4 linked regions of the Homo sapiens genome follow. The protein of the gene in region 2 purifies or fractionates together with the protein of the main gene of each other region. This does not show direct contact. Each region holds a gene or a part of one and is shown on either strand. Other genes may lie near its edges. The genes, in order: CDC40, USB1, ISY1 and DHX35.

Region 1 (7,026 bases), on a different chromosome or scaffold from region 2:
GTTTGATTCCAGTTTTCACTATTAAAAATGTGATGTATGTTATGCTACAAAGTGCATTTTAAAACATGGTAGTGAATATTTTTGTACATAAAACTTTACATGTTCTTATATTATTTTATACTATTTTCTTAAATGAGTTCCCAAACGTAGGTAAAAGAATATGTGTTTTAAAAGCTTTTGGTATATATTATCAAATTGCTTTCCAAAAGAATTCTCTCAACCTACTCTACCACCACAGTGTATAAAAGTCCTATTTCTCTTTTTTTTTTTTTTTTTTTTTGAGACAGGATCTCGCTCTGTCACTCAGGCCGTGCAGTTGTGGGATCTCTGCTCACTGCAACCTCTACCTCTGGGGTTCAGGCAATTCTCATGCCTCAGCCTCCTGAGTAGCTGGAATTACAGGCATGAACGACCACACATAGCTAATGTTTTTTTTTGTATTTTTCGTAGAGATGGGGTTTTACCATATTGGCCAGACTTGTCTCAAAACTCCTGGCCTCAAGTAATCTGCCTTCCTTGGCCTCCCAAAGTGCTGGGATTACAGGCCTGAGCCACGATGCCCGGCCCTATTTCTCTTCATCAAAGATCCATATGATTGTTTTTCCTTTGTTTACTTGATAATCAAAGTATTATATTTCTTTATTGCAACTTGATTTTTCCGGACTACTAGTGAGGTCGAAGGTTTTTTCATATATTTATGACCATTCTTTTGCAAATTGTTTATAGTCTCTTTTCATTTGCCTAATGGAATTAGTTTTAATAATTATTATTAGTTTAATAATCTTAAGGGTATAATAATAAAATCAATATTATGGCCATTTCAAATAAGACTGCCGAAGGGAAGAAAGTAGACATTAATTCCATTAAAAAGATAAAAGGGAAAACAAGCTTCAGGAAGATAGATAAGAATATTTAAGAAATGTAGAAATATTCACTTATTTGAGACACAAGATAGTGAGAAAACAAATTGGACTGAAATTTAGTAGTGTTAGAATTAGATCTTGTTCTATCACTGGCTGATTTGTAGTAAGACATAAGGCCAAATATTTAACTCTTATTTGTAAAAGGAAAATAATACTGTTTTCTAATCACCTGGGGTGGAAGGCAGTAGTGGGGATGGTGGTATGGCAGTAAAGATTTTTACCACAGAGGATGTGGAGCAAGAGGAAAGCATAACTTATTTTTCTGAGTAACAAGACAGTGGCCAGATGAGTTGGGGAATGGTGCTTACACAGAGACAAGGACCAGGGATACCTCTTCCCTCTCTGTCTACTCCTTCACCCTTCCAGACGCGTCATGAAATGCTATTTATGTAGACGTTAAGTCTCCTTTCAAAGTAGAAATTTACATTCTAGCTAGATACGTTTTTTATTATTGAAATGGAAACTTTTAACATGGTATGAGCTTATAAAAGTCTCATTTTTTGGAAAAAGTTATGTGCAGAACACTTCTGTACATCAAAGAGATTAAAGACAAAATAACTCATGGGATTTGAACCTGTGATTTCAGAGATTCTACTCCAAAGGCTGATTTTCTGCCACCAAGCTCTCTCCTCTGGTTAAGAACATATTTTAATGCTGAAAAAAACTATATGCAAATCAGCTAATAGCCAGGTGGTTGGTTCTGTTATAGCATATCATGAGGGTGAGTTCAGCACTTACATCCTTAGCTTGTTTGAAAAGCATGCTTCATGATGAATCTTTTTCTGTTCCCCAAAAGAAGTTCCCTATATTCTGTTTTTTTGTGTGTGTGTGTGAGATGGAGTCTCGCTCTGTCGCCCAGGCTGGAGTGCAGTGGCGCGATCTCAGCTCACTGCAAGCTACACCTCCCCGGTTCACACCATTCTCCTGCCTCAGCCTCCCGAGTAGCTGGGACTACTTTGGATGAAAAATGAAAATAATAAGTCTATCCTCTAGGATGTGCCCTTTAGAAAAAATGGGCTTAGTACTTTTTTATGTATTCTATTATCGTACACATGAGTTGTAGGCCATAAAGTGATCAGTGATTTAGCACTCTTGTGAATATACCAGACTAATGTTACCAAACATTTACTGTGCTAGCACACCCATTTGAGAAAAAAACTGATTTGAGCTAACTTAGGTAGACTTTCTTTCCTTAAATTCCCATGGACCACTGAAGACCACATTTATATGTAGCTACATACTTTATAATTAGTTTAAAAAGCACATTCGTATGCTGGTAGATATCCTTCCTTCTCTTAAGGAAATATAAAGAATGATTGATGAAATAGAAATATATTAAGATTGGGAAGGAAGACTGTCCTTACTGCAAATGGTATTTTCAAAATAATAGCTAGATTTTATGTAATCTTCTTACCCTTTTTTATTTAATAATTTACATAATTTGATAAACTTAGCCCTGCAATATCTATTACCAAGAAGAAAAGGAAAATGGTTTCTAGATTTCCAAGTGCATCATGTACATGTATTTTCAAGCTCTTAGAATATTTAAAACTAAAGTTTGATGTGTTGGCCAGAGAGGCTCTTAGTAATGTAATGTCAGTATGCAAAATTCATCCTATAAGAAACATATTATGCTGGAGTCTAGCCTGAGCTTTGGGTTCTAAATAGAAAAATATAGCTTTGGGTTCTAAATAGAAATATAGCTCAGGGGCCGGGAGTGGTGGCTCACACCTGTAATGCCAGCACTTTGGGAGGCCAAGGCGGTGGATCATTTAAGGTCAGGAGTTCAAGATCAGCTTGGCCAACATGGTGAAACCCCATCTCTCCAAAAAAATACAAAAGTTAGCTAGGGGTAATGACGCATGCCTGTAATCCCAGCTACTCTGGAGGCTGAGGCAGGAGAATTGCTTGAGCCTGGAAGGCGGAGGTTGCAGTGAGCCGAGATTACACCACTGCACTCCAGCCTGGGTGACAGGGTGAGACCCTATCTCAAAAAAAAAAAAAAAAAAAAAAAGGAAGCAATATAGCTCAGGGCAGAATGATTGGTCCTGATTGGTCCTGAGTTAGAGATCATTTTTGACATCTGGGAAAGAAAATGTGAAATGTGTATATTTGTATTATAATAATAAAATGAATTTAAACAGCAAAATGGAGTTAATAATTTTCACTTTTTTGCTTTCAGGTTATGCATTAGACCCTTCATTAGATAATCATCAAGTGTCTGCTAAATATATTGGTTCTGTAGAAGAAGCTGAAAAAAATCAAGGTAATTTATTTGAAACATTTGATATCATATATACCTACACATCTATAATTAGTGTCTTGCAGAGTGACTTTAATTAGACAGTAAAAAATAGTATTTAGCGCTTTTTTTTTTAAAGTTGAAACAATGGAGCGATACAGTTTAGAGCAATATAGTTCAGAAATGTTACAGTTTAGAGCTTGCTTTTGCCGCTTACTAGTTGTGGAATCTTGTAGGGAAAATAATGATACATATCTCTTTGAGTTACTTTGAGTACTTGGCACCATGCCAACCCTGTAGAAATCACTCAATAAATTACAACTAATGTATAGATAATTTTGGCAATTGATTTCTCAACATTAATGTCAAGCTTCATTTTAACAGAGTAGAAATACTTTATTTGGTAAGTCTGTGAAGATTGTCTTTGAAGAGTTGCTTTGAAGGTTGAGTTTGAATATGTGTTGTATGTATGCTTGTATTCATATTCATTTTGTACTTACAATAAGACAAAACATCATACGCTAAACGCTAACTTGTCACAAGCCTCATCAGTCCATTAGAATATTATCCATAAAATGCAATTTAAAAAGTAATTTGCTGGTTGGTTGCATGGGACATTTGTGCTTAGTAGCTATAGATCCTATGTGATCTGGCTGGTCTCTGTATATGAGCTAGATTATTGTTAAAATAGAATTTTAACAGGCTTTTGCTATAAAACATAGCCTGAATTAATATAGGTAGACATTTCTTCTTTAAGCTAGACCTCTGCAAGTCCCATCTAAAGGTAGCTAGATTCTTAGTTAACTTGTGACTATGATTCCACAAACCTTTCTTTTTCCAAGTTAATGACTATACACAGTATGCCACCTCCTACTAATCAAATCAAAATCTCAACCAGAAACACCCTCCTTCTCCTTTTCTTTTACTGTTAACGTTAATGATATTAGAGGTCAAGATGAGACTGAAATCACTTGGAAGGAATACCATTTCTGGTGAAACCTTGTTTGATTTACATTTTTGCATTACAAGTGAAGTGAAGATAAGTTATTAAGTACTTACAGTAATTTAGTTTAATTTAGTTTTAAAATGATAAATTACAGTTTATTCTTGCTTCCAAATGTCACTTTATTATTACTTAGCAATAATGAGTTTCTGAGTTTTTTCCAGAAAGTCGTACAAATCCACTGACACAGCTTTTTGATTCAATAAAAGGCTTGTGCGCCATTGTAGGAGTACATATTTGGGTCTCTTCTTTAAGTATACAGTATTAGAATTTGCAGAATATTGAATTAGTTTTAAGTGTCTTTGCCCAGAAGGTTGAATCCCTTTTTCTGTAGCATGAGTCAGCGTATATGGTAGATTCATGTAGATTGTTTTTTAATAACTCTGGGGTCACTTGAACAATCATCTTTCTTTAACCATATAAAATAAAATTAAACATATGTTCATATTTCTTTAGAAAATGTACATCTTTGTAATCTCTCAGTTTTTTTTTTAATTTTTTTTTTGTTAACGTAGGTTTAACTGTATTTGAAACTGGTCAGAAGAAAACAGAAAAGAGGAAAAAGTTTAAAGAAAATGATGCATCCAATATTGATGGTTTTTTGGGACCATGGGCAAAATATGTGGATGAAAAAGATGTAGCCAAACCTTCAGAAGTAAGCTTTGATGTTTTTAATTGTCAATTCAGGTATACGCTGTATCTCTATGAAGGATATCTACATTAATAAACTTGAGATTTCTTTAGAGAACCAAATGACTCATCAAAATTTTTCTGCCTTTAGTTGATTGAAAATATACAATAAAATTTATTTGTTTTTCTTTGGGATATTTTTATTTACCTTTTCTGCTGATTTGTTTTCTCTCATGCTTTTTTATTAAAATACAATATTGAACAATTTTCATAAAGATTTCCTTGATATTGCTATTAAGCTGCCATGGTAGCTACTCTTCTGATACTAGACATTCAGATAGTAACTACAAAATCAGCCTTCTGTGACACTAGAATTGATTATAAATTTTATTGATTTATGAATTTATTTAAAATTTTCAACAAATTTTATCTCTATATATATCTTAAAAACTACTATAAAGTTTGTAAAGTAAATGCTCTGCCGTTCCCTTCCTCACCTCCTAATCTCACTGTCTCCATGAGCCAGAGAGTGTTCTAGGTCCCAGGCATACAGCAGTGGACAAGATCAAGAAAATCATGACCTCATGAAGCTTATATTCTAGCTGTTACTTACATCCAGTAAATCCATGTTTATAGTAATAGAAATAAACAGGTGATATCTAAGATGAATAAACTTATTCTACTATTTTTTATTTTAGATTTTATCTGTTGACTTGTTATTATAGATAGAGATTTACTACTACCCCATCTTCTGTCCCCAGCTCCTCCCAAAAAAATTGTGTCACAAATGTATAGCTATCACTTATATCCTTAGGAGTATGTAAAAACAATTAACTGAAAAACAACATTATGTGCTAAAATTCAGTTTCCATTCTGAAACTAGATTTTCTGATTGCCTTGTCTTTTTACTTGTATAACTAGTATAACATGTTAAAATTTATTTCTAGGTGTCACAGAAGGATAAGTTTTGAAAACTGATTTTATATAGTTGAAAAGTATTATCTAGTATCCATTATGTATTTAGTACCATTTCATAATTTGTGGAAGAGGTAATCAGTCTCTGCTTATAGAAGACTTGAGCTTGGCCGGGCCTGTAAGCCCAGCACTTTGGGAGGCCGAGGCGGGCGCATTGCCAGAGCTCAGGAGTTCGAGACCAGCCTGGGCAACACAGTAAAACCCTGTCTCTACTAAAACAGAAAAAATTAGCCAGGCGTGGTAGTGTGCACCGAGTAGTCCCAGCTACTCGGGAGGCTGAGGCAGGAGAATTGCTTGAACTAGGAAGAGGGAGGTTGCAGTGAGCAGAGATTCGCGCCACTGCACTCCAGCCTGGGCGACAGTGCGAGACTCATCTCAGAAAAAAAAAAAAAAAAAAAAAGTGTTGAGCTTGTTATCCTGGGAACATACTCGGACCAGATATGTAGAAGTCATTATAAAGAATTTATAACCAACTTTAGGTATAATGAGGTTCTAGAACATTCATTTTAAATTTCACTCCTTAATTTTCTTAGGAAGAGCAAAAAGAATTGGATGAAATCACAGCAAAGAGGCAGAAAAAAGGAAAACAGGAAGAAGAGAAACCTGGGGAGGAGAAGACAATCTTACATGGTAACATATTTTTTGTACATCTTCATTTTTATGAAAAACCTTCATATTTACTCTGTTCGCTGTTCATACAATATCAATTACCCTTACTATCAGCTGTAATAAAATCATTATGTTAAGTATAATTGTGTTGGACAATTTGTATCCCAAGGAAATTACAGCAGACTTCTGTATACTGATAAAGGAGAAAAAATAGCATGATTAATGATAGCCACAGATAATTTTTTTCCAAGTGTGAATGAATTTTATTAAATGGTAGATAAAAAGAAACTTGAATAGTCCACAATCTATTCTTTCGTAAGATAAAGTTGACTCTTTTGGTGTATTAATAGTGCCCCAGTCATTTTAAATGTTTTTAATGAAGCCAAATACTCAGGTATCCTCACAGTTCATAATCGTTATTCAGCTATATTCAGAATAAACTTGGATTTTCGTGTGAAAAGATGGAGCTTAAGGCTCTCATACTTATTTTGACTTGTAGAAGGAAATGCATATTCACCAAAACAAATCGTAAGTATTCTAGAATGTACCTGTTAATAATTAGTTATATTTAGGAAAATACATAGTGATTATCTAAAACTGTAAAGAATAGCTTAGCATTTACAGTGTTGCTTATTCTAATGTTA
Region 2 (7,040 bases):
GACGACTCCTTGAAATGCAACTCGCACACGTTGCAGCGGAACAGGTGGTGCTCGCCCGAGTGCGCGTACATGTGGCGCACCAGGTGAGAGCGGTGCTTGAAGGTCTTCTCGCAGACTGCGCACTTGTAGGGCCGCTCGGAGCTGTGCGTGCGCTTGTGGTGCACCAGGTGCGACGACTGGCTGAAGCTTTTGTCACACAGCGTGCACTTGTAGGGCTTCTCACCGGTGTGGATCCGCTCATGCCGAGAGAGCTCCGACAGGTGCTTGAAGGGCTTTTGGCAGATGGGGCAGCTGTAGGGCTTGTCGGCCTGTTCAGCAGGGGTGACAGTGGAAGGCGCGGGTGCTGCGGGAAGCGACGGGGCGGCTGTGGTGGCTGGCTCCGCTGCCTCAGCTGGCTTGTAGGTCTTTTCACAGATGGAACACTTCACCAGGCCACTGTGGGAGCTGTGGTGCTGTGCCAGTGAGGTGAGTAGTGAGAAGCCCATCTTGCAGACCCCACAGACGAAGGGCTTCTGCTCAGCCTGCACGCACTGGTGCTCCAGCAGGTCAGTGGCCTGGTGGAAGATCTTGAGACACTGTGTGCACTGGAATGAGCGGTCATGGCCCGCCAGACACTGGTGCTCATGCGGACTGGACAGGTGCGCCAGGTCGTGACCACACACGCCACATTTGGGGCCTGGCTCTCCTGCTGCCTGCAGGGGTGCGTGTTGTGGGGGCTGCAGGCCGGGGTCTGGCTGCAGGAGGATGCCATAGACGGCACAGCCCAGGGGGTTCTCCGCCGTGCCCGGAGGCAGCGTGTGCTCTGCCAGGGCTGGCGGTGGCTCTGCATGGTGCTGAGGCTGCGGTGGCTGTGGCTGCTGCGGCTGCGTCTGTGGCGGCTGTTGCCAGCTTTCCGACATGCTTGGGAAGATGAAACAGGGTTTGGAGAGTAATGGCTTCAGTTTCCCGCTTCACGTGACCCAATCCAGAGAGAGAAGCTGCCCAATCACAGAGATGGACAAGGACCTCAGACAAGGCACAGAAGAGGGGCTGGTCAGACAGCCCGAGTCAGTAACCAAGCGGACAGACTACAAGGCTCTGCCTACAGGACATGGGGGCTCTTCAAGGGAGGGTCCCAGCAGTGCCGGGGAGACTCTGCCTTCCCCAGTGATCCGTTCTGTAGAGAAGAGAGAAAGTATGAGCTCGAGGAAGGAACAAGCAGCAGTTTCCTGGGCCTTCTCCCTGTCCTGCCCGCACTCACCACACCATCACAAACCACACATCGGGGAAGGCAGAGGTGCTCAGGGCTGCAGGACTCCTCCCTTCTTAGGCAATCAGAGAGGTCTGCAGCCAGCTCAGCTCCTCCAGGCAGAGGAAATGGCAGCGGCCTCCACCCCCACCCACCTCAGTGCCCCGCCCCTGGGCCAGGACATCCCAGCCTCCACAAGTCCCCTCCAGCTTCCTGCCAACCCTTTAGCTGAGACTCACAGGTGAGAGTCCGGGGTTATCTGCCTACAATACAGAATCCTCCTTAAGGCCCGCAGCTCCTCTCCTGTTGCTACCCTGAGTCTTAATACGGGCCACACCACTTAGAGCTAAGGAGGCCAGACCTCCCAGGTCTGAGAGCCCAGTGGCAAATGGCCTCTGACAGTCAATATTTAGGACAACTACGTGGAACCAAGGACCATTTCAAAAACTCTCACCTATGAGGGACTGACCACACCCCTTCAACTATCCCTGACCACAGGCCCATTCTCTCTCCGCGTGACAGGATGGGTGGCCCTACAGGAACCAGAGCCCATAGGTGATGGGGGCTAGATGAGAGGGCCACAGAACCACCCAGGCTTGATGTCCACACAGCAGAACTTCCTCACTCTGGTTCTCTCCCAGAACTCACACACACACACACACACACACACACACACACAAAGTCCTAAATCCTCTGAATCTCATAGTGTCAAGGCCTGCAGGAAAATGTAAGAAACTGCCCTGGTCTGCCTTGGCAATGCAGGATGCAGCATGCTAACCACAGAGCATTTCTCATCACCTCTCTAGAGACAACTCCATTCCCTTACTCCAAGCCTATAAAGTTCTGGGTAATTGTTGGAAGGTAAAGCCCACCCAGCCCAGGCAAATCTCTAACTCACCACTTTGTGGCAGCATGAGGTAATGCCAGCGAGAGGGAGGAACTTTCAGAGTCAGATGCAACCCACTTCCAGGTTCCCAGCTCATCTGCCTCTTACATTTAAAAGTTTGTAAGTTTTCTCCTGAGCAGAGGAAGAAGGAAGGAGAAGCCTTCACAGGACAGTCTGGCCTCTAACTGCTCTGCCAAAGAAATGTAAGAGTCAGGCTAAAAGCTGTCATCCTCAGCATCTTCCGGAAGGGAGGGAGGAGAGGAGCGGCTGCTCTGGGTGGAGGCAGCAGGTTGCTTGAGCAAGCAGGTACCACTCTAAGCCTTCTCGGGACAGAGAGGGGGAAGGTGGGCTTCTCTGAGCGCCTGTAGGTCCGCTGTGCCAACCCACTGTTTTGTTTGCTTTTTCTGGCATGAATGGCTGTCAGACAGTGTCCCCTGGCTTGGTCTGCAGCACCCCCTGCCCACCCTGGCCCTCCTGCAGCAAGGTGCAGCCAGGAAGCCTCTGTGATCACTCCGCAAAGGGGAGAGAGGAGGCAAGGAGAGGCAGGGGAGGCCCCCCACCTGCGCCCCACCCCGTCTCTTCTTCCTCCCTGAGAAACCGAATGAAAGCCGATCACCTCCCGCCGGCCCTGCCTGCAGGCCCAGCTGGGCTGCGTCCTGTCAGCCCTCGTCCGGGATGGCCCGGCCGCTGCGACCCGAGGGCGAGCCCCGAGGGCGGCCGGGCTGGAGAAAGGCCCCAGGGCTACAGGCCGGGCCCAGGAAGCGGCTGCGCCTCGAGGCCCGGCCTGGGCCGCCCAGAAGCTCAAGAGGCCGCTAGGTCGCGGCGGAGGGGCGCGGGGGGGCGGCCGGGCCGGCAGAGGAAGGGGTGCGGCGGGCGCGGGGGTGGCCCCCAGATGCGGCCCCGGGCGCCCCGCCGCTCACCTGCTCCAGGCCGCCTGCAGGGCAGGCGCGGGGCGAGCGGCGACCAGCTGCTCTCTCGGCCGCCCCTTTATTCCGGCTCCATCCGCGGCGGCGCGGCCTACGCGCGCTGCCAATCCCCGGCCTCGCGTAGCGGCTGCGGCCGGACCGGGGGCGGGGGACGGGCTAGCGGCGGCCGGAACGGAGGAAGCGACGCGCGCTGCCGGAGTAGCGGGGCCGGGGCGAGGAGCGCCGGGAGGGCGGGCGGACGGACCGATGGCCTTGCGGAGACGGGCGGACGGGCGGGCGGCGCGGGGGCCAGGGAGGCGGGGCCGGGGGAGGAGCGGCATCCCGGGCGGCGGCGGCCAATGCGGGAGGAGCGGGCGGCGCGGAGCGAGGCCGCCCCCTGCCGGGGACCCCGTGGCCGGGCCAGGTCGGACAAGCCGGGTGCTCCGGGCGGTTTTCGAGTCGCCAGGCCTGGGCGCCTCGACTAACCGAGGAAGGGCGCTCTGCTTCCGGCCACCCCGCTCGGGCTTAGGGGAGGGGGCTCCGGGTGACCGCCCTCGGCCCGGCTCTGCGCAGGAGAGGAGGGGCCTCCTAGAGGCTCTGGTCTGCCACAATTGATCCGCCCCTAACTGCTCAGCTTGGCTTTTAGGGGCTTGGACTTTGGGCTGGTTTGAGGAGGGGGCTCCAGGACCTCTGATCCTGGCCGGGCTCGGGGCAGGCAGGGGTCTCCGCTGGGTCTAGTGCGCTGACCCGGGACTGTCGTGTCTGGTATGTCTGGTCCCGGGTGGCTGCAGACAGCAGCGGGCAGAAAGGTGAGGGCCCTGAGCGATATATGAAATGGGTACACGAAGGCTGGGGAGGTCCCAGCGGGGTGCCGGGAGGCTGCAGGTGACCAGATCCGCGTGCGCAGCCGGCAGACAGCTTGGAGTCGGTGGGCTGAATCTTCACCACTGTCCTGCCGGGTTCCGCCCCTCCCGGCTCCGCCCCGAGGCGGTGCCAGCCCAGGCCCCGCCCCTGGGAGGGCGCTTCCGGCACAGCGGAACTCCGGGTGCCGGTTGAGGTTGCTGGTGGACCTGCTCTGGTGGTCTTGGATGAGGCCCCATGAGCGCGGCGCCCCTGGTGGGCTACAGCAGCAGCGGCTCCGAGGATGAGTCCGAGGACGGGATGCGGACCAGGCCGGGGGATGGGAGCCACCGTCGGTGAGGAGTGAGGAAGTCTCTCCGGAGGGCGCGCGCATTCACCCTAGAGCCAGACGGGACCCGAATGTCTGGGGGTGGAGTGGGGAGGGAGGATGCGGGGCGGCTCTGGGAAGGAAAAGGGGACGCAGGAAGAAAGGAGGATCCAGAAGATATACCCCTCCCCCCCACCCCAGACAAAGCTCCAGAGTGGCCCCACCTGGCTAGGGCCAAGTTGGGAGGCCAGACCTGGGTTCGGGTCCAGCCTCGCGCTGGCCCACTCTATCGCCTGGCACACATCCCTGTACCATCCTAGGTCCGTTTCCTGATTTGAATACAATTGCGATAGTAATACTTGCTAAAGCGTAGGGAGAGCCTTTTCATTCATCCAGTAAATATTCACTGAGCACCCACTCCCTGCCAGGCTGGGGTCTGGTAATTCAGTGGTGAACAAAACCGTCGGCCTTACTTCCTGGGGCTTAGATTCTTAAATGCTAGGCCTTATCTTTGCTGAGTGCTTTACAAGCAGTAGCTCAGTTGATCCCACAATTGCTCTATCAGGTAGACATATACTTTCAGATGAGGCATTTGAGGCCCAGAAAGGGGACATGACTTGCCCAAGGTCATAGAGCTAGAAAGTGCTACTCCAGCTGCAGCCTGTCCAGCTTGGAAATGTGACCCCTGAACCACATTGTTGCATGCCCTGTTGTTTCCCATGGGGACCTTGTGCCCCAGAGTTGGAGACCCCAATGAGACAATACTGGAGAAACAATTTCGCTATCTAGAAGCTGCTTCCAGCACCAGGCTGGAAACACACACTCAGAGCCACCATATATAAGGGGTTACAACTTTTGTGGTATATACAAAGGTAGAGAATGCTAACAGGATAAATGTACTCATTTTTCTTTTTTTCTTTTGCAGTGGCCAGAGCCCCCTTCCCAGGCAGAGATTTCCAGTACCTGACAGTGTGCTGAACATGTTCCCGGGCACCGAGGAGGGGCCTGAAGATGACAGCACAAAACACGGGGGACGGGTGCGCACCTTCCCCCACGAGCGAGGCAACTGGGCCACCCACGTCTATGTACCATGTGAGTGATGTGTGAAAGGCAAGTTGCCAAGACCCATAGACCCGTAGGTGCCTCATGAAGGGCAGAATCTGGCCCCAACTAGAAGGAAGAAACCAGAAACCTCTAACACTGGTGGTGGGAAAGTCATTGACTTAGCAGAGAAAGAGCAGGTTTCAAGAACTGGGGATTTTTCTGTCATCTTGGTTTTGAATTCGTAGCCTAAAATGTGTATTACCTCTGGGTATAATATTCTCCCTGTTCACGAGGAGGTGACCAAAGGAGAATCTGGAGCAGGGTGTCAAGGTCATGCCAGGCACTTTATTTCTGAGAGGGCCCTGGGTACGCTGGGTGTGCAAGGTTCAAATCCCACCCTAGCTCTGATCAGCAGGTGGAAGACAAAAAATGCCCAGGCTTCAGAGTCAGACCTCACTCCGCTGCCCACTACTCTGGGTGCCCTTTATAAGATACTAGACTTCTCAGAGCTTCAGTTTCTTCAAATCTAAAATGGGGGTAGCACTGGCTAGGCCAGGTGGCTCACACCTATAGTCCCAGCACTTTGGGAAGCGGAGGCAGGCAGATCACTTGAGCCCAGGTGTTTGAGACCAGCCTCGGCAACAGGTAGAAACCCTGTTTCTACCAAAAATACAAAAAAATTAGCCAGGTGTGGTGGCACACGCCTATGGTTCCCACTACTTGAGAGGCTGAGGTAGGCGGATTGACTGACCCTGGGAGGTAGAGACTGTGGTGTGCCAAGATCGCTCCACTGCACTCCAGCCTGGGTGACAGAGTGAGACTCCATCTCAAATAAGACAGTTTGGTGGCTTCTTACAAAACTAAACATACTCTTATCATAAAATCCAGCAATTACATTCCTTGGTTTTTGCCCAAAGGAGTTGCATTTGGTATTGACAGTGTTCTGGAGTTTAGCCATTCTAATAGGTGTGTAGCAATATGTCACTGTTGTCTGTTAATTTGCATTTCCCTGATGACATATGATCCAGATCATCTTTTCAATGCTTTTTGCCATCTGTGTATCTTCCTCAGTGAGGTGTCTGTTAAGGTCTTTTGCCCACTTTTTAATCATTTTTGTTTATTAATATTAATCATTTTTGTTTATTAATAAATTTTAATCATTTTTGTTTATTTAATATTATGATGTGGGTCTAATATTGGATCTTAAAATATTGAGTTTTAAGAGTTCTTTATATTTGAAATAATAGTCCTTTATCAGATACGTCTTTTGCAAATACATTTTTTTCCCAGCCAGTCGCTTGTCTTTTCATTCTCTTGACGTTGTCCTTCACAGAGCAGAAGTTTTTAAGTTTAATGAAGTCCAGCTTATCAATTATTTCTTTCATGGATCTTGCCTTTGGTGTCATATCTAAAAAGTTGTCACCAAACCCAAGATCATCTACATTTTTCTCCTATGTTATCTTTCAGGAATCTTACAGTTTTGCATTTTACATTTAGTTCTGTGTCCATTTTGAGTTAATTTTTGTGAAAGGTGGAAGGTCTGTGTCTAGATTCCTTTTCTTATATATGGATATCCAGTTATTCCAGCACCATTGGTTGAAAAGACTCTCTTTTTCACATTGTATTGCTTTTGCTCCTTTGCCAAAGATCGGTTGACTGTATTGATGTGGGTCTATTTCTGGGTTCTCAATTCTGTTCCATTCATCTATTTGTTCACCAATACCATTGGTGAACTGTTTTGATTGCTGTAACTTTACATAGTTAAGTCTCGAAGTTGGGTAGTTTCAGTCCTCCAACTTTGTTCTTCTC
Region 3 (7,026 bases), on a different chromosome or scaffold from region 2:
CCCAGCTAATTTTTTGTATTTTTTTTTAGCAGAGACGGGGTTTCACCATGTTAGCCAGGATGGTCTTGATCTCCTGACCTTGTGATCCGCCCGCCTCAGCCTCCCAAAGTGCTGGGATTACAGGCATGAGCCACCGCACCTGGCCTAAAAAAATAAAAAAATTTTTAAGGCCGGAAAGGAACATACCAAACAGATAATAATGGTTATCAGTTACCTCTAGGAGGGGCACTGGGATGAGTGTAGAGGTAAGAGGACTTTAACTCTATCTGTGCTATTTGAATTATAACCAGTAAAATTCACTTATGCATTTTCTTTCTAAAACAAAAATCTTTTCAATAGATGACAAAAAAGGAAAAATAAATTTAAAAACCCAAAACTCTATCACTGGAATAAGCAAAAATATATTTAGAAAAATGTAAATGCAAAAAACCTAACATATAGAGCATAATCACAATATAGGAGCCACCCCAACACAACCCTTTAGAAACTGGAAGGAACAGCCAGGCGAGGTGGCTCACTCCTGTAATCCTAGCGCTTTGGGAGGCCGAGGTGGGCAGATCATGACATCAAGCGTTTGAGACCGGCCGGGAGCAGTGGGATGTTATCCCAGCACTTTGGGAGGCCGAGGCGGGCGGATCACGAGGTCAGGAGATAGAGACCATCCTGGCTAACACGGTGAAACCCCGTCTCTACTAAAAAAATACAAAAACTTTGCCGGGCGTGGTGGCGGTCACCTATAGTCCCAGCTACTCGGGAGGCTGAGGCAGGAGAATGGCGTAAACCCGGGAGGCAGAGCTTACAGCAGTGTGCCGAGATCGCATCACTGCACTCCAGCCTGGGCAACACAGCAAGACTCCATGTCAAAAAAAAAAAAAAAAAAAAAACTCGAGACCACCCTGGCCAACATAGGGAAACCCTGTCTCCACTAAAAATACAAATTAGTACTGGGCACAGTGGCTCACGCCTGTAATCCCAGCATTTTGGGAGACCAAGGCGGGCGGATCACAAGGTCAGGAGATTGAGACCATCCTGGTTAACATGGTGAAACCCCGTCTCTACTAAAAAAACACAAAAACTTTGCCGGGCATGGTGGCGGGCGCCTATAGTACCAGCTACTCAGGAGCCTGAGGCAGGAGAATGGCGTGAACCTGGGAGGCAGAGCTTGCAGCAGTAAGCCGAGATTGCGTCACTGTACTCCAGCCTGGGCAACAGAGCAAAACTCCATCTCAAAAAAAAAAGAGCTCGAGACCACCCTGGCACCAACACAGTGAAACCCTGTCTCTACTAAAAATACAAATTAGTACTGGTCACGGTGGCTCACGCCTGTAATCCCAGCACTTTGGGAAGCTGAGGCAGGTGGATCACGAGGTCAGGAGATCGAGACCATCCTGGCTAACACGGTGAAACCCCGTCTCTACTAAAAATACAAAAAAAAAATAAAATTAGCTGGGCATGGTGGCAGATGCCTGTAGTCCCAGCTACTCAGGAGGCTGAGGCAGGAGAATGGTGTGAACCCAGGAGGTGGAGCTTGCAGTGAGCCAAGATTGGGCCACTGTACTCCAGCCTTGGTGACAGAGCGAGACTCCATCTCAAAAACAAAAAAAAGATACAAATTAGCTGGGCATGGTGGCATGCGCCTGTAGTCCCAGCTACTTGGGAGGCTGAGGCAGGAGAATTACTTGAACCCGGGAGGCAGAGGTTGCAGTGAGCCGAGATTGCACAACTACACTCCAGCCTGCGCAACAGAGCAAGACTCCATCTCAAAAAAAAAAAAAGAAAGAAAGAAAGAAAGAAACTGGAGGGAACAATGCCCTAATGTATTAACAATCATCACATATGAGGTGTGAAAATGTGAGTGGTTTTTTTCTGATTTTCTGTATTTTATAACTTTTTTTTGTTTGAGATGGAGTCCTGCTCTGCTGCCCAGGCTGGAGCGCAGTGGGACGATCTCGGCTCACTGCAACCTCTGCCTCCCAGGTTCAAGTGATTCTCCTGCCTCAGCCTCCTGAGTAGCTGGGATTACAGGTGCCTGCCATATGCCCAGCTAATTTTTTTTGTATTTTTAGTAGAGACAGGGTTTCACCATGTTGGCCAGGCTGGTCTCGAACTCCTGACCTTGTGATTCTCCCGCCTCAGGCTCCCAAAGTGCTGGGATTACAGGCATGAGCCACTGCGCCTGGCTATAACTCCTCTGTAGTAAAAAATATATTCCTTCATAATTAATGGCACAATATTTAAACTCTGAATTATTTTTAAGGGATGGTAGTGGCCTATGCAAAACTAGCTGTGGAATAATGAATTTTAAAATAAGCAGCATTTAATAAAAATAGAACTATATTTTTTTTAAAATAGAAAAGCCAACTAGAAGGAGATATAACAAAATGCTAATAATGGTGAAAATACTGGCATCATTCTTCTCTGCCTCTCATACTTTTTCCTATGAAGTGTTGACTACCTTTCTAAAACACAAAATCAAAACCGACTAAAACTCCAGACTAACAGTTTCAAATTATATTCAGGAGGTTTGGCTGAAAGAAGGAGGAAAGGTGGGTGTGCCCTATTTGGATTCACACAAAAGTAGCTCCACTTTTCTCCTTTTTTTTTTTTGAGATGGAGTTTCGCTCTTGCTGTCCAGGCTGGAGTGCAATGGCACGATCTCGGCTCACCGCAACCTCCACCCCTCAGATTCAAGCAATTCTCCTGTCTCAGTCTCCTGAGTAGCTGGGAGTACAGGCATGCACCACCATGCCCAGCTAATTTTGTATGTTTAGTGGAGACGGGGTTTCTCCATGTTGGTCAAGCTGGTCTCTAACTCCCTACCTCAGGTGATCCGCCCACCTCAGCCTCCCAAAGTGCTGGGATTACAGGCATGAGCCACAGTGCTGGGCCTCACTTTTCTCCATTTTTACATTTAGGGTTTGGCCCAAGATTGTATTTGTTCTTTGGTTATCATTTGTTCAACTAATAAGTAACTGAAACATGACCTGATTCAATGAACTTCAGAGCCTGCCCCAATCGTTCTGGGAAACTTCAAATAGGGAAACTCCTTGTCCAGACTGACAGATTAGCACCTGCCAAAGGCAGAATCCTGCACCAGCCAATCCTGGGCACACTTTCCAGCCCCAATTGTATGGCATGGGCCTATGATTCTATCCCAGTTCTTAAGAATTCTCAGTTAAAATCTGGGAACAATAATTCCTACACTATAAGGCTGTTATGCAACTAAGAAAAAAAAGTAAGAGCAGTTAGCATATAGCATATCTACTCTTATGATTATTACCAATGAAAGGCTAAAACTGTCACAAACTTACTTACGTTCTTTTTCAAACAGCTCTCTAACACCAGGCAAATCTTTTGCTGCTCCAAAGTACTTGTAACCTCGGTTTCCTGGGACTTCTTTTCCTTCATGATCCAGCATTTTAGGGCCAACTTTCTTATTGGGAAGAAAAAAAGAGAAAATGGATCTGTTAGTTAGTTAGTTAGTTATTATTTATTTATTTATTTGAGGCGGAGTCTCGCTCTGTTGCCCATTTATTTATTTGAGGTGGAGTCTCGCTCTGTTGCCCAGGCTGGAGTGCAGTAGCACAATCTCACTGCAACCTCCACCTCCTGGGTTCAAGTGATTCTCCTGCCTCAGCCTCCTGAGTAGCTGGGATTACAGGTGCGTGCCACCACGCCTGGCTAATTTTTGTATTTTTAGTAGAGACGGGGTTTCACCATGTTGGTCAGGATGGTCTTGAACTCCTGACCTCATGATCCACCCACCTCGGCCTCCCAAAGTGCTGGGATTACAGGCGTGAGCCACTGCGCCTGGCAGATCTGATCTTTAAACCCACTATTTCCATGTTTGCAAATATATTTTAAGATAATAGCTGGATGCAGTGGCTCACACCTGTAATCCTAGCACTTTGGGAGGCCAAGGTAGGCGATCACTTCAGCTTAGGAGTTCAAGACCAGCCTGGGCAACATGGCAAAACCCTGTCTCTACTAAATATACAAAAATTAGCTGGGTGTGGTGAGACATGCCTGTAATCCCAGCTACTCAGGAGACTGGGGCAGGAAGAATTGCTTGAACCTGGGAGGTGGAGATTGCAGCGAGCCAAGATCGTGCCACTGTACTCCAGCCAGGGCTGGAGTAAATTAAATAAATAAATAAATAAATAAATAAATAAATAAATAAAAAACACTTATGGGCTGGGCACGGTGGCTCACACCTGTAATCCCAGCACTCTGGGACACCAAGGTGGGAAGATCACTTGAGGCCAGGAGTTCACGACCAGCATGGGCAACATGGCAAAACCCTGTCTCTACAAAAAAATGCAAAAATCAGCCAGGCATGGTGACACACACCTATCGTGCCACTGCATTCCAGCCTGGGTGACAGAGCAAGACCCTGTCTCAAAAAAAATAAATAAAACTAGGCCGGGCGCAGTGGCTCACGCCTGTAATCTCAGCACTTTGGGAGGCCGAGGTGGGCGGATCACGAGGTCAGGAGACCGAGACCATCCTGGCTAACATGGTGAAACCCCGTCTCTACTATAAATACAAAAAATTAGCTAGGCATGGTGGTGGGCGCCTGTAGTCCCAGCTACTCAGGAGGCTAAGGCAGGAGAACGGCATGAACCTGGGAGGCGGAGCTTGCAGTGAGCTGATATCACACCACTGCACTCCAGCCTGGGTGACAGAGCAAGACTCCGTCTCAAAAAAATAAAATAAAATAATTAAAAAATAAATAAATAAATAAAGATAAAAAACACGATGCTAAGTGACAAAACCTTTAAAAAGATTACAAACAACCTATATGACAATTAGTGGAAAACAAATGAAATATATCCAGAAGATACAACTATATCTATTAAAACTGATGATTTGCTGGGTGCGGTGGCTCACATCTGTAATCCCAGCACTTTGTGAGACCAAGGCGGGAAGATCACCTGAGGTCAGGAGTTCAAGACCAGCCTGGCCAACATGGTAAAATCCCATCTCTACTAAAAATACAAAAATTAGCAGGGTACGGTGGTGCACATCTGTAATTCCAGCTACTTGGGAGGCTGGAGCACAAGAATCACTTGAACCTGGGAGGCGGAGGTTAGGGTGAGCTGAGATCGCACGCCACTGCACTCCAGCCTGGACGACAGAGCGAGACTCTGTCTCGAAAAAAAAAAAAAAAAAGACGATTTGACAACTACATGTAGTATGTGACCCCAGATCAGGTCCTGTACTGCAGGGGAAATGCTACCAAGGACATTATTGGGAAAACTGATGAAATGCCACATGGATTCAATTATTGTAGCCAAGTTAAATTTCTTAAACTTGATAGCTCTACCATGGTTACATAAGAGAATATTCTTCTTAGGAAATACACATATATTAAAGGGTAAAGAAGCATGATGTATTGTAACCTACCTTTCAAGTGGTTCACAAAAAATAAATCTCAAGGTACACAAAGAAAATAAAGCAAATACAAGCAAAATGTTAAATACTGGTAAATCTGTATAAAGGGTATATAAAAGTTCTCTGTATATTTTTGCAATGCTCTTTGAGTTAAAAAACATTTTTTTAAATCATACAATTTGGCTGAGCACAGCGGCTCATGCCTGTAATCCCAGTACTTTGGGAGGCTGAGGCAGGATGACTGATTGACTCCAGGAGCTCAAGACCAGCCTGGGCAACATAATGGGACACCATTTCTACAAAAAATTTAAAAATTAGCTGGGCATGGCCAGGCACGGTAGCTCACACCTATAATCCCAGCACTTTGGGGAGCCAAGGCAGGTGGATCACCTGAGGTAGGGAGTTCGAGACCAGCCTGGCCAACATGGTGAAACCCTGTCTCTACTAAAAATACAAAAATTAGCTGGGCGTGGTGGTGGGCACCTGTAATCCCAGCTACTCTGGAGGCTGAGGCATGAGAATCGCTTGAACCCAGGAGGGGGAGGTTGCAGTGAGTCGAAATCACACTCCTGCACTCCAGCCTGGGTGACAGAGCGAGACTCCGTCGCAAAAACAAAAATTAGCTGAGCATGGTGGCACACACCTGTCATCTCAGCTGCTCAGGAGGCTGAGGTAAAAGGATTACTTGCACCTGGAGTCAAGGCTGCAGTGAGCCATGATCGTGCCACTGCACTCCAGCCTGGGGTGACAGAGTAAAATCTTGTCACAAAAACTAAGAGGCTGGGTGCAGTGGCTCACATCTGTAATTCCAGCAGTTTGGGAGACCAAGGCGGACAGATCACCAGAGGTCAGGAGTTCGAGACCAGCCTGGCCAACATGGTCAAACCCCAACTCTACTAAAATATAAAAATTAGCCAGGTGTGGTGGCGCACACCTATAATCTCAGCTGCTCTGGAGGCTGGGGCACAAGAATTGCTTGAACCCAGGAGGCAGAGGTTGCAGTGAGCCAAGATCGCACCACTGCACTCCAGCCTGGGTGATGAAGCGAGACTCTGTCTCAAAAAAAAAAAAAAAACTAAACTAGAATAAAATAAAACAATATACATATCTATCATATGATTATTTATTGACACGAAACTGTATTCCTTGTACAGTTTAGAGAATAAAGCACATAGAATATTAATGAATTTCTATAATGTATATACTAATATGTATTTTTTATATCTTATAATTTTTATATTTATATTTTTTCTCTGCACAAAAATATGTACTGTTTATATAATGAAAGCTACCATTTTGAAAAGAAAAACAAAATCCAGAACCAAAATTGTACATACAGTGAGTATGGTTTCAATTATGACATTCATACAAAAACAACGGAAGGAGAAAAAAGATAAAGAGCATATTCAAGTGGCTGCACTTATGTAATGGGATTGTGACTGAGTGTTGTTCTGCTTCTTTGTACTTTTCTGAACTTAGTGGTAATATATTACTTTTATATGTAGAAAATAAAAATAAAATTATTAAGCATTAAAAATCTCTGGAAAAAATATATAAAAATATTAATAGTGTTGAATTTGGGTGGTGGAACTTAACATTTCACATACGAATTTTTTCATACCTGAGACCACT
Region 4 (7,026 bases), on a different chromosome or scaffold from region 2:
TTTGCACGTCTGCCTTCTGTGAACTGTTTACTCTTTTGGGGCATGGGGTGTCTGTTCCCACTTGTTTGTATGTCACTTCTAGTGTACCTGTGCTGTGCATGTCATAGGGATGCAGGAAGGCTGAAGCAACTTGAAGGGAATTTACCCAAAAGAAAGTGAACAGGAGTACTGTGTGGAATTCTGCATAGCAAAACATAGTTTTGTTGACATGAGGCACTTTGATGTCTGTGCTTATTCTTCTCAATTTTGAGGTTAATATATAACATCCCTGTATTTTGTGGTTAAATCCAGTTTACTCTTTTAAAAGTACCCCTCAGAGCCCCTTCACTTAGCGTTTGATGCCATTCGTTAGCACAGCTCCTGGGCTCCTGGGTTTCCTGGAGCAGGATGGGCATGTTTTGTAAAGGTACATAGGGAAATAAAGACAAGCTTTGTAGTTATGTAGCCAGGCCTCAGGGAAATGAGTAGAGGTGGGGAATGGAAAGGGCACCCAGATTCAAATAATGGAGCACTCCACCCGACGGGATATCCATGCCCCCTCTGCAGTGGGCACCAGCTGCTTCCCATCTGGTGCTCACTTGCCTGCCTGCATGGTCACTTAGCTCTTCTCAGTCTCAGCTTCTCTTTGTACCTTAGGGTCACATTCCCCAAGAGAGGATCTTTGGTGGCGTTTCCTTCCCCCATCATTGGCTGGAGCCCTCAAGACAGGTCTCCTTGTGGGCTGCAAGTGGTGGTCAAGTACCATTAAATAGGATGTGGACACCTGTTTGGCAGAAACTGCCAAGAGACACTTCTCCCAACAGGGTACTGCACGAGTGTTGGGGAAGTACATGATTGATGGCCTACCCCATACAAAGCCTCGCACTCACTACTGTAGGGCGTGTAAAGATGGAGAAGACACTATCCCTGCCATCAAGTGGCCTAAAACCAGTAACAATGGGGCCGGAAACACACCTACTGTTCACAGAAGGAAAAGTTTCCTATCAAATGATCATATCTGTGTTTTCCAGATAGAGTTACCCACCAACCTCATCTAACCTGTACTGAACTTGAGTCACACCTTTGACCTAATTTTTGCTTAAATGAAATACAGAGGATAGGAATAATATAAATAATACTAAAGCTACATGTTAACTCAGATGCTATGCTGAATGCAGTTTTGAAATCTAACCTTTATTATTTTTATTAAAACTTTAGTAAAGACACTGTCATTGAAATGTGATTCCCCACAATTACAGTTAGAAAAATGTGAATTTAAAAAATGTATTTTGCAACCCATAATCTGTATTGCACATATATAATCTTGCTACTCACCTGTCTTTGGCAAGTTTTATATTATTTTTTCTTTCCATGAATCGCTACGAACCTTTTTTTCTAAGAGAAATGAAGAATTAATTTTTTTCTTTTTAGAAATTCCGGGATTTCTTTAATCAAAATGAAACCAGTGATCCAGCAAGGGATACATGTGTGATCCTTACAGTGGAAGGGAGAACATTTCCGGTGGATATCTTTTATCTACAAAGGTTTGATGATGCTTGAATTCTGGATGATGGTGTTTAGAAAACTCAGCCTCTGATGTAGAATGTCAGAACTGCATTTGCTCACAACTCTAAAGGATGGGGAGGAGCATGTTTTGTGTCCCTAGTCATTGGTCTAGAATGTTCTTACCCTGCTCCGGATCACTGCTGAATTTAGTTTAAACTGTTCACACTGACATGCAAGTTTCCGTAAGTCTGTGGCCAGTAGCTCAGCCAGAGAGAGCAAAAGTGGTGAAAGGTTTTGGGGAGGGAAGCTTGATAGTTTTCAGAACTGGGGTTTACAAGGCTGCCTGTCAGCAGGGGCAGTATTGGTGATTTGAATCATTTGGCTCTCAGTTCTCTACATCCCTAGCGAGAAGGCCCAGTTGGCATTTTTAGGAGTAGCCTACTTGGACAAGGAAGGGGCCATCCTAATTCCTGTACTAGTCACTGGACAAAAAAAGACCAGGAGCCTGTTCCAGTGGCTGATAAATCCAGAGTCGTGGACTTGATTTCTGAATCGTTTTGTTGGAGAGCTCATCCATCAGGGCCATCCAGCCGACCCATAGATGCTGCTATTGGTTAGGAGGGAAAATGGGCTGGGAAGAGCGTGGGCTTCAGCACTGGGACCACAGCTTCCGATTTTCACTGGTCTGATGTCTTTGCATACTAAAGATAGCACATCTATTTGTATGGGTATATCATGTTATTTCTTTCCAAATAAAGCTAAAAATCATAGTTGACATATAATTATGGATTATTCTTGAATATTAGATTTGAAAAAAATGAATATTTATTTTGTTTATCCTGTACTAATTACCTACTGGGCAGGCCCAAACTCACTTTGATGAGCTTTGCTGCCAGATTATTAGGGTAATTGATCTGTAATTAATGAGCATATTCTAGTGATGAATTCATCCCATTTGTCTTTTCAGTCCTGTTCCAGATTATATCAAATCAACTGTCGAAACTGTGGTGAAAATTCACCAGACAGAGGGAGACGGAGACGTTTTAGCATTTCTTACTGGCCAGGTAATGCCACTGTACTTCTCTGATGAATAGACATGTTAAGACAGCACCAAAAGTAATACAGAGCCTTGTTACTTTACTCAGTCATGTATTTCATGTTTTGTTGTATTTTGTGGTTCCATAATTGTGTAGAAAATTGATTTGATGTCATTCATCTACCATCTAGATTGTCAGGGACTCGTTAGCCCCTGCCTGTTCTGTCTGCAGAGGGTTAAATGTTTTTTTAAATGTATTAGCTGATTCCAAAATAAACTAGGTAGTTGAGTGAGGGCTATTTTGTTTGCCAGAATTGGATACTACATTAGGTCCATGTCCTGCACACATGTTGCTGCTGTGTACCTCTTTTTCCAGTGACACCTTTACAGCTCATCCTGGAGGTGATAAGTGGCCATATTACTGGTAAAACAACTGAACAGACCCAAGTGCTCGCTGACGGTGGCCAGCACTATTCAGACCTGCCCTCCAACTGTAATCTTTTCCACTGCCAAACACTTTCCATGGTTCAGTAATCTTTTTTGGAGAAAGCTTACAGTGATTTTATATGCTGCAACTTGTCTATATGCATGAGATGCTTGTTTGACACCGTATATGTATGCTGAGTAAAATAGTCATCGTTTTTATTTATTGGGAACTCTTCCATTCATTGCAGATCATACCGAGTTTTTAGTAACTAATAGTGTAGTTGCAAAATTTCACCCATTGTCATCATTGTGTATTAGCATTTAATTAAATACCATCCCAGAGTGGAACATGACGGCACTGAAATTCTTGAATCTGACCAAAATTAAAGTCCAGATCCCAACTTTTATTTTCTTTCAGTATGATAAAATAGCATGCTTTAAATTGATCTCGGTTTCTTTGGTTCCTGGTTCAACGTCTTTAGGAAGAGGTAGAAACTGTTGTGTCGATGCTCATCGAGCAGGCTCGAGCACTAGCTCGCACTGGGATGAAGAGACACCTCCGAGTTCTCCCCATGTATGCAGGACTGCCTTCCTTTGAGCAAATGAAAGTGTTTGAAAGGGTGTCACGCAGTGTCAGAAAGGTGAGACTATCCTGATGACCAAGGGTGTTGGCAGCCGTCTATAATCATAATGATGCTCCTTTACTTGTTTTGAAACTTGCTAAACACAAGGCAGACTTCTAGGTCCATATTTCTGTGTAGTAGATCTAAAAGCACACAATAAATAATACATTGTGAAGATTTCTTTTTTTTTTGAGATGGAGTCTCGCTCTGTTGCCCAGGCTGGAGTGCAGTGGCGCGATCTCAGCTCACTGCAAGCTCTGCCTCCCGGGTTCACGCCATTCTCCTGCCTCAGCCTCCTGAGTAGCTGGGACTACAGGCGCCCGCCACCACACCCGGCTAATTTTTTTTTGTATTTTTAGTAGAGACGGGGTTTCACTAAGTTAGCCAGGATGGTCTCGATCTCCTGACCTTGTGATCCGCCCACCTTGGCCTCCCAAAGTGCTGGGATTACAGGCGTCAGCCACCGTGCCCGGCCTGTTGTGAAGATTCTAAACCTGTCCCACTGAAGGATCACTTTGACAGTAGTTATCAGATCAGGTGACTTCTCTTTTCTTCTCTTCTGCCTTCCTAATATTTCCCACGACACATGCTTACTTTGGCTTAAGGGATTGTTTAGGGGGATTGAGGTCAGTCAGGAGCAATAGAAAAATTGGTACACATGGTTTCTAAATAATTTGTTTTAAGTATCAGCTTGCCTATTTTAAAGGGCCAAGTTTAAATCAATTAATTCAAGGTGTGGCTTAAAAATGTTTAGCCTTGAAGTGAGAGTGAGGAAGGGTGTGGTGGAAAGCATTGGTTTGAAGGAGCTGGCAGGCAGCCAGTCCACCTGGGCCTGACTCTGCCTTTTCCTTTCATTAGATGAGGACTGCACAGAACCAGCCCGAGGACAGCTTTTACTGTAGTAGCTATTTATCAACAGATGGCAGAGAATAGAGCAGGTGAGGGATGGTCTGAGGATCCACTCCCAATTTCAGACCACCTGGAAGAGGGTGCTCAGCCCCTTGACCATTGGGATGGAGCAACATGAGTCTGCCCTGTCAAACATTAATTGCAGCCAGCCAATCAGGAGACCTGGATTCTGCCCCTGAGCTACTATGTGCCTTGGGACAACTGACTTAACCTCGAATCTGAGTTTTTGCAGCTGTAAAACGTAAATAATAATAACTTTCAGATAGGTGGTTTTATAGCATAACATCTTAATCCCAACTACATAAAAATATTAGAAAGATTATTTTATAAAATGATCATTTATAAAATAATTTTTATAAAATGATTTATAAAATGTAAAGTGCCTGAAAAAAGTTCTAACTGCTATATATATGTGTCCCCTGCTACTTAAACCCTTCAGGGGCAGCTCCCAATGTACTGGGAATAAAATTCAAATACCTCATGGTGGCCCAGAGACCACATATGATTGCATATCTGCCTCCCTCTGCAACCTCATCTTGTACTTTGTATTTTGGCTGCACTGGCTGTTTCTCCTTCCTTTGAACTGTTTCTTATTCTTGGATCTCTATAGGGTTGGCTGCTGCTTGTTACTCAGGTCTCTGCTCAAAATCTTTCACAGAGGCTCTGCCTGGCCAACAAAAGTAAAGTAGCATGCCCTATTATTACAATAATATATAATATACATGTTATATACTACATCATATCATATTGCCTCATTGTGTTAATATTTTCTTTATAGTATTTGTTGTTCTCTGAAATTATCTTCTTGTTTATGTTCAGCATGTCTTCACCCTAAACACTCAAACTAGAATGTAAACTCTGGCAGAGCAGGGGCCTTGTCTGTCTTGTTTATCCTACATCCCAGCACCTTGAACAGTGCTTGGCAAAGTGCACACCCTCAGAAAGTAATCATGATATGAATGAATAAATGACTATACCTGCGCAAGATGGAGGGTGATTTACTTTGGTTATGCCAAAGGGAAAAACTAACAAATGCTAGGCTCTGATCACTTTATATATTAATTGTATATAGTCCCTTCAGTAGCCCTAGGGGAGGTGGTAAATCTTATTATGTAGATGAGGAAACAGGTTCAGGAGGTTGAGTAACTTGTCCAGGGTCACATGATTAGGGAGAATTCAAACCCAGGGCACCCCCTGACTTGGAAACTCACAGTCTTTCTAGTATATTAAACTGCCTCTCACAGATTCTGCAATGTTGGAAATGTTAAATCTTTTAGGATTTTTACGAGTTTGTTAAAAGCAAAAAGAATAAAATGAGTTTTATTCTTCTTTCTGTGGGGAACGTAGGTGATAGTGGCCACCAATGTGGCAGAAACCTCTATCACAATCAGCGGCATTGTGTATGTGATCGACTGTGGCTTTGTGAAACTCCGAGCCTACAATCCCAGGACAGCTATTGAATGCTTGGTGGTGGTGCCAGTCTCCCAGGCATCAGCTAATCAGCGAGCAGGACGTGGTGGTCGTAGTCGCTCGGGAAAATGTTATCGCCTTTATACAGGTTAGTGTGGCTTTCCCTAAGGGTTTTTGACTTTCTTATAGTCAGCCTGGGCAACAGAGTGTAGCAAATGTTTACTCCTAATGGTAGAACTTAACATAAAATACAGGCCTTCCTCACAAGGCCCTGTGTAATCAGATCCCCACTGCTTTCCTCACTCTAAATATGGTGTTTCTTTGTTACTAGTCCCCATTGGCCAAAGCTGGCCTGTGAGTGACTGCTTATTTGCTATCCTGTTCTAACCTAACATCTGGGCACAGGCCTGTGTAGCCATTTGTCCCTAGGGTGTGGGCTGTGTGTCCTGGAGCCTGTCTTTCTTGCCTTTCTTTCTTGACTTAATGTGCTGTTTTTGTATTCCAAGATCCCTGAGTCTTGCGGAGCCTCACATTGGGTTCCCCTTTTACTTCTGGTTCAGAGCATCTTTGCCAAGTGAAAATGGAAGGTCTGTCCGGAGACTCATTCATAGAAAACAAATAGTTGGTGAGCTCCTCCTCTGTGCTGTGCATCATGCTAGGCTCTGAGGGAACAGAAGGCAATTTTAATACTGTCTCAGCCTTTCTGGAGCTTTCTATCCAGCTTGAAGACAGCCTTACCTATAGACAGTGATGGACCCAGAGCTGCTCTTTCTCTGCACTTCTCTTCTGTGGGGAATGCTGCTGACATTTTCCCCAGTTGTCCAGACTCAATTTCCAAGTCATTGTTAATTCTCTTCTTTATCCAGTATCCATCTGCATTCACTTAACCAGGCCCAGGGTTTTTTATTTTGTTTTGTTTCTTCTGGTGTGGCTGCCCCTAAAGAAGGTCCAGGGGTTTTAGCTCTGCCATTTGTCTCTTCTTTTCCTTTCTGGTTATTATTGTCCTTGTTCAGTCTTTGATGTTGATCTTTCTTTTAGCAGATGTTTGCAGAGCACCTGCTGTATGCTGGCCACGGTGCTAGAGCTTGGAGATCTGGGGCTAGTAACCATGGTCTGTGGCCACAGTGACTGACAGTC

The links.
Region 1: the proteins of USB1 (region 2) and CDC40 purify together in Homo sapiens (affinity purification with mass spectrometry; 3 studies listed by BioGRID and IntAct, with this or other methods). This does not show direct contact.
Region 3: the proteins of USB1 (region 2) and ISY1 purify together in Homo sapiens (affinity purification with mass spectrometry, with the first as the bait; 3 studies listed by BioGRID). This does not show direct contact.
Region 4: the proteins of USB1 (region 2) and DHX35 purify together in Homo sapiens (affinity purification with mass spectrometry; 3 studies listed by BioGRID and IntAct, with this or other methods). This does not show direct contact.

Annotation. Positions count from the first base shown.
Region 1 is NC_000006.12:110,204,401-110,211,426, forward strand, and holds part of CDC40 (pre-mRNA-processing factor 17), read left to right. Parts: intron 1-3,105; coding exon 3,106-3,189; intron 3,190-4,683; coding exon 4,684-4,823; intron 4,824-6,306; coding exon 6,307-6,403; intron 6,404-7,026. UniProt on the Homo sapiens protein: Required for pre-mRNA splicing as component of the activated spliceosome. Plays an important role in embryonic brain development; this function does not require proline isomerization.
Region 2 is NC_000016.10:57,997,367-58,004,406, forward strand, and holds the start of USB1 (U6 snRNA phosphodiesterase 1), read left to right. Parts: upstream 1-4,040; 5' UTR 4,041-4,117; coding exon 4,118-4,215; intron 4,216-5,112; coding exon 5,113-5,279; intron 5,280-7,040. Other genes in the region: ZNF319 (zinc finger protein 319), read right to left, coding at 1-899. UniProt on the Homo sapiens protein: 3'-5' RNA exonuclease that trims the 3' end of oligo(U) and oligo(A) tracts of the pre-U6 small nuclear RNA (snRNA) molecule, leading to the formation of a mature U6 snRNA 3' end-terminated with a 2',3'-cyclic phosphate.
Region 3 is NC_000003.12:129,137,053-129,144,078, forward strand, and holds part of ISY1 (pre-mRNA-splicing factor ISY1 homolog), read right to left. Parts: intron 3,434-7,026; coding exon 3,316-3,433; intron 145-3,315; coding exon of another isoform or gene 79-144; intron 1-78. Other genes in the region: ISY1-RAB43 protein, read right to left, coding at 3,316-3,433. UniProt on the Homo sapiens protein: Component of the spliceosome C complex required for the selective processing of microRNAs during embryonic stem cell differentiation. Required for the biogenesis of all miRNAs from the pri-miR-17-92 primary transcript except miR-92a.
Region 4 is NC_000020.11:39,000,320-39,007,345, forward strand, and holds part of DHX35 (probable ATP-dependent RNA helicase DHX35), read left to right. Parts: intron 1-1,410; coding exon 1,411-1,523; intron 1,524-2,452; coding exon 2,453-2,549; intron 2,550-3,429; coding exon 3,430-3,588; intron 3,589-5,826; coding exon 5,827-6,037; intron 6,038-7,026. UniProt on the Homo sapiens protein: May be involved in pre-mRNA splicing.